Linked DNA regions of Homo sapiens. The protein of the gene in region 2 purifies or fractionates together with the protein of the main gene of each other region. This does not show direct contact. Each region holds a gene or a part of one and is shown on either strand. Other genes may lie near its edges.

Region 1 (3,183 bases), on a different chromosome or scaffold from region 2:
AAGTTTCACCAGATTTTCTTCCCTCAGCACCTCACTAGGGCTGCCCAGTGAGTGAAGGAGTAAGTGGGAATCTTCTCTTCTCCAGCTTTGCCCTGAAAAGATGAAGTCTTCCCTCTAAAAAGAGGAGTTGTTCCTAAACAGGGTATATTCCTTTCCCAGATGCTTCTACAACAAAGTGTCACTAAGTGCTTAACTTTGTCTTTGTCAACCAACATTAACTACAAAGGGAACTGCTGTTTTAAAAGTCATAGTTTTGCTTCTTAGGCATGAGAATAACATAGGACTTTGGATAGAGAGAAATCAAAGGCTTTTAAAGATGCAGACAGACTGTCTGCTGAGAAGATGTTTCCTCTAAGTAGTATAGAGACAAAGCTCATTTAATTCCATCACATTCTTTCTAAAAGAGAATTTATGGCACATTATCTACCCTCTATTTGAGAATAGGTTTCCAAGGCTTGATAGTGACTTTTGTAGACAGGGAAAAGAAAATTCATTTTCAATTCATCTACATTATAGTTTTATCGAGAAAAAGTAGATTTCAAGTTTAAACCAACAAATAAACTGAGGCTGCTATCACACTCTAAGGAATTTACCTTAATGTAGAAAACTCATGAAAATCAAAAATACACATTGTACCTAATGTAATATCCATCGCACATATCTGCCAGTCAACTCAGTCTCAATGATGATCCTCTGATGAAAGGCCGCTGTACCATAAGATAGAGTTCACTAAAAGTGGTGTGTTAAAACATTTTATGCCTTAGAGATACATTTTATTTGTACTAGACACATATTTGACTATATATACACTGGTATGGGATGAGCAGACCTTTGTCTGCATAACATTTGGCTCCACACATAGGTTTTATTGTTAACTAGGTAAAACAGAAGTTATTTTTATAAATTATATGCAGAGTATTTATCATTGTATAGAATTGTATATACTCATAGAAAGCTGAAAGCTGTTATTACTGGATTATGAACTCAAAACCTATGATCCAGACATATTGGCTTCAAGCTAAAATGATTTTTTAAATATCTATTTCAGAAAATTTTATATTCATTCATTTTTAATCCTGTGAGTTATCCACCATTTCTTGACAACCAAGGAGTGAGTGCTGAGATCACATAGCAGCTTCTTATCTAATAGAATACCATTGTATATGAACCAGTAAAAACACCAGGAATGGGAATAATGACAAATATCTAAGTAAGTTGTGAAATCTAAGTACCTATTATAGGTGTTTTTAAGAACTCTTTGTAAGTGAATGCTAGAAGTAGACAAATTATTTAGTGGAAAATCCTATGTTCACATCAGTAAAATATTGCAGGCCAGAGATATCTTTTGATTTCTAATCTATTGTTTTATGTATTTTATATACAAAGTACAGAAATTTCACAAGAAGTCAAACACAGTGATGCCATTTGCTATGTTTTATTTTGCTAGTAGCTTATTAAACATAACATGCAAATAATCAAAGAGAAACATACATGACTTAGAGTGAAAAATAATTCTAGAAAAGTTTCACTAGGTAAGTATGCAAATTCTTATTCTAAAAATACTTCTTTAAGTGCATGAAGCTTCATGTATTTTGCAATATTCTTGGCCTCAATATCTACCACCTATTTTTTAACCAGACAAATTTGAATGTATCAAGATAATTTGGTGCAAGAGAGTAACATCCATATGTATTTAATCCAAGCTTTGAGGAACATTAAGATTTAAGGATTATAAAACTTGGCTGATTTCCATGCAACCAGTAAAAGGTTTTGCACATCATTTGACAGTAGAAATAAAAAAACACTAAATTTACAAATAAAGCATTGAGTTTGATGTCTATTCGTGTATATGTGTGTGTTCTTGTGATGAAATAGGCCTGCCTTTCATCTTTTCTTTAAAAAAAATAAATGTTTACAAAACATTTCCCTCAGATTTTAAAATTCATGGAAGTAATAAACAGTAATAAAATATGGATACTATGAAAACTGACACACAGAAAAACATAACCATAAAATATTGTTCCAGGATACAGATATTAATTAAGAGTGACTTCGTTAGCAACACGTAGACATTCATACATATCCGGTGGAAGACTGGTTTCTGAGATGCGATTGCCATCCAAACGCAAATGCTTGATCTTGGAGTAGGATAATGGCCCCAGGATCTTGCAGAAGCTCTTTATGTCAAACTCTAAAAATTAAAGAATAGAAAACATTAATCATTTTTCAGTACACTGGCTCAAAACAATACAAAAAATTTATGTTTAATATATTATAAAATAGGACCTCTTCCCATTTAGAAAAGTCATAATATAGTATATGTTTGAATTTGCAACCATTAAAGGCATATTTCAGGCTACCAAAATGGCACAGTAACATTTAGTAAAGAGTAATCATGGTAGATCAAGATATTCAGTGGAATATTTTAAATAACAGAACTTATTTTATTACTAGAAGTTGTTTTTAAAAAGGCATTCAATAAGTGTGTCATATTATCTAACAACTTTTTTGAAATAGTATAACCTGAAGAAATATAAATGGATCCCATTGTTGTATGAACAATCTCAGTATAAGTACTCTTTGGTTTTACATCTAAAAATAAGAAGGGTTAACTAGATGATCTATAAAGAATTTTCTAGCAACCACATACCATGACCATGATAAAAATTCCAAGACAAAAACCAAATCATTCCAGCAATCACACACCATAGCAATGATCAAAATTCTAAGGCAAAAACCTAATCATGGCATGTCCACCATCTGAACTCATGTTTTTGTTTATTTGTTTATTTTTGTCCATGGTCAAAAAGCTGCCACAAATGAAACACTGACTTACTTTGTAATAGAAACCAAGAGTGTTACTGAATTGACTGACCTGTGTATACACAGAAACTATGTTTGCCTATGTCTATTTTAGATTAACATTTTCAAGTCCTTTATCTTGTTTTCATTTTCAAACTCTAGTTAACAAAGACTTCAGTGGAACCCCAAACACACATGCTTTTTAAAATAACTCATCAGTTAATTCCAGGGATTTTTCTATGGTACCAACATTTGAGAAAGTGAGGAAAAATGGAAAGAAGATGGGCATAGTCCCATCTTGGAATTCTACCTCTGCCACTTACCCAGGTGGGCAACACTGGAACACTTATCTGATCTTGTTAGAAATAACACATCTATCTT
Region 2 (3,500 bases):
CCCCGCCTCCCTGTCTTTGCGAGTCTCTAATGAAGAAGTAAATGCAGACCCGGTGTTGACGGCCCACGCGCTCCTGATGAGGCGCTTCCAGAGTTCAGCGAAGTGGAGCATGGAGGCCGTTCTCTTTGTGAACGCCGAGGCCGCCGCCCCGCGCCAGTCCGGCCGCCCTAGGCACGTTCCGCTCTCGCGGTTGCGTGTGGGCCGGGAGTAAGCGAAGGGCGCGGGGCTAGGCCGGCAGGGGCCAGCGCGTCTGGATTCGTCCCGCGGCCTCTTTGCCCCCGGGGTGTAAGGGTTTCGGGCCGTGGAGAGGAGGCGCTCTGACCCGCACGTCTCCACCCGCGCAGCCCATTGCACTTCAAGTCGCCCTTCTTATCCAACCCATTTCTCTCGCCCTTAGTTTTAAGGCCCAAGTTGAGCCACCTTTTGCTTTGCAAATGGCTCTTCTACCCCCAGCCTCACTAGGTTACCCTTACTCCTTTCTCACCTCTCCGAGCTGGCCAAATCGGGGCTCTACTAGGGGTGCCTTGTCAGGATTCGATCCACATTTGTGTAGGGTGGTGGGTGGAGATTCGTGTTATATCGAATAGCCCAACAATTTTAGGAACAACTGAATGGTACTCTGCTTAGCATGGAGAAGTGGGTTGAGTAGAAAGGAAGAGAAGCCACGCAGAATTCTGTTTTAGCACTTGTCATTTCATGCTATTCAGAACAGTTTAAAGTTTAAGCACGAACATGTCTTACTCAACAAAAAGGGAATGCACTTGGGTGGGTGGGGGTGAGGGGGGAGCGTAGCAATTGAATTTCAGGTCCTTGAAAAAATATACATCCTTATGAGGGATGAACAAAAAGTTTCCAGAAAATAGTTTACTGGGTGCTGACTTGTAAAATTCTATCATTGAAACAGTTTGAATACAGATTTCAAACATGATGTTGTAGAGTCAAAGGTGATATAGAGCTTACTTCTATGAAGAGCATTCAAACCGCAGCAAAGCCTGGTTTTACTTGAAGTGATTGGAACCAGGGCAAGTTTAGATCTTGACCTGAAATGCCAGAAAAGGAGATCGTGACTCCTGAAGGAAAAGTGCTGCAGAAATCTGAACAAAAATGTCAGGGCCTGAATACTATTTCCATTCTTGCCCCTGTTAGTAGTTTTCACTTTACAATCACAGCGGGGTTCCCTGAGCTGCAAATGAAGAATTAAGTTTTAATACAAACAGAATTGTTGGAAGGTAAATGCCTATGAATGCAAGTCTTTGAAGTGCAGTTGTTTTGATGGCACTAATTTTTTTCTGTGCCTTAGGAAGTTTCGCCACCATGCTACCTAAGGACAGTGTTCTGAATTTTTATAAAATTTCTTCCTGAATAGCATGAGAAAATTGGGCATTTAACCTCCTGAAGGGAACTTTTTTTTTGGGGGGGGTGCCTAACAATTATAGTAAAATAGCAGAATACCTGTGAAATTAATATACAATCCTTACAGAAACAAAAATGGAAAGGACTCTCCCATACACAAAACAAACGAAAACTTTTTTGTGATAATGTAACCACTTCATTTTCTTGTCATATGCCAGCAAGAATGAACCTTGTAAATGTGTTGAGTCATGTTAAAAATATCCTTTTAAAGGTTATCCTCTTCTCCTTCCTACATACTTTGTATACTACTTTAGTAATTGAATTAACTTTTAGTTCTGATTTACTCTAAACTTTACTTGAAGCAGGTAAACATAGAAATAAAATGGAACTTTCACTTTCTGGTTTTTCTCTTAGGGATTTAAATGGAAATAACATCACAAGAATTACGAAGACAGATTTTGCTGGTCTTAGACATCTAAGAGTTCTGTAAGTGCATCCTCTGTATTTTTAAATAATTTTTTAAGGTTGCATATTTTGAATCATTACTGGCCTCAGTTTTTATGACTATTCTGATGACAGTAACATAAAACATTTAAAAGGTCATGCTTTCCTTTTTTCTGTGTTTATCATTGTACTACAACATTTAATAAAAATTGGGGCTTTTATTTTAAGGTTGGAAGCATGCCATAGAACCAATAATCCAGAAATGACCTCAGATCTTTGTTATACCATACCCTAAGCGCTTTATGCATATAAAAATGTTGAATAATTGTTTTCACAAAATGAATAAGTAATAAGAAACATTTGATACTTTTAGGATTTGAAATTAACTAAAATATTTAAGTGGATCTGTATTTTATTATTGATAACAAAAGGATTCTTATTTTTTTGCGAAAATCTAATATCAAGCATTAAAATCAACCATTCAAATTTTCAGCAGAGTTTATAATGATACATTAGTCATATTTTGAGTTTTTATATTTTGTGTCTTTGTAGCTTCTATAAAATTGTTGCAATATGATTACTTCTTTAATTAGTGGGTTAAATTAGCTGTGAGTAAACCACCACTTGCGAGTCAATGTAATGTTAAATTGTTCTCACCCACAGGATTGTAAATATTGACATCCCAGTAGCCATACAGTTTTGACCATTGTGCATTCAGTGTTCTAAGTTTTAAGAGACACATTTTGGTCATTACAAATTATTCCAGTTGCTGATGTGTATCCATGTCAGAATTGAAGTATGTATATGATGAATTACTGTATTTTGATTCTTTGGTTAAGTTGAAAACCAGTGTATCAAAGAAAGCTATCAAAGCTTCAGTGTCAAGGATTACTCTTCAGATATACTATTAGTTTAAGGGTCAGAGTTTTGACCAGTAAATCTCATGAGAAACTGCATTTGTATTAAGTTTTGTGATGCAGACACTGCTATTTCCCTTCCATGAGTTCACTCAGATATATTATTATTAAATTTGATATTGGATCTCAAATCAGAGCACAATTTAACTTTATAAAGGGAAAGAGTTTACAAGTTTTCAGTTGCTGAATTGAAATTTATTCAGATGGTGAGTGGTAACATTAAGAAGCATGTTATATTTTGCATTTCAGTCAGCTTATGGAGAATAAGATTAGCACCATTGAAAGAGGAGCATTCCAGGATCTTAAAGAACTAGAGAGACTGTAAGTATTTTCAATTCCAAAGTTATGACAACATAACTGTGTTTTTTAAAAATACTTAAATTTCAAGCATCATGTCTTCAATTTCATGTCTTAGGGTTTGAAATTTTGCAGAAAAAGGAGGATGAATGAGTGGTTTTCAGGTTAATTTATGACAAATAGAGTTCCTGAATAAAAAGTTCTAACTTGTAATTAAGCTCAAAAATACAGTTACTTTCCTGAGACATGTATTTCCTTGATAATCATTGCTTTGGTACTTAAAGATGTACAAGCATTTCTTATTCTTCATTTGATTTGTTTTATTTGCTCATGTAGGAAGAAAGGTGGTACTTTTATTTGCGTTAATGGTGCATTAGGGAAGAGAGAAGTTTTGCTAATTGTTATTTTCATTTTCATGGTGGTGCTTTGTGTGTTATCAGTGACATTTGATGAAATATTTTATATTTTACTAATAAAGATTTACTTTTT

What was found.
Region 1: the proteins of SLIT2 (region 2) and LUM purify together in Homo sapiens (affinity purification with mass spectrometry, with the first as the bait; one large-scale study listed by BioGRID). This does not show direct contact.

Annotation. Positions count from the first base shown.
Region 1 is NC_000012.12:91,102,129-91,105,311, forward strand, and holds the end of LUM (lumican precursor), read right to left. Parts: intron 2,192-3,183; coding exon 2,037-2,191; 3' UTR 501-2,036; downstream 1-500.
Region 2 is NC_000004.12:20,254,905-20,258,404, forward strand, and holds part of SLIT2 (slit homolog 2 protein isoform 1 precursor), read left to right. Parts: intron 1-1,767; coding exon 1,768-1,839; intron 1,840-2,963; coding exon 2,964-3,035; intron 3,036-3,500. UniProt on the Homo sapiens protein: Thought to act as molecular guidance cue in cellular migration, and function appears to be mediated by interaction with roundabout homolog receptors.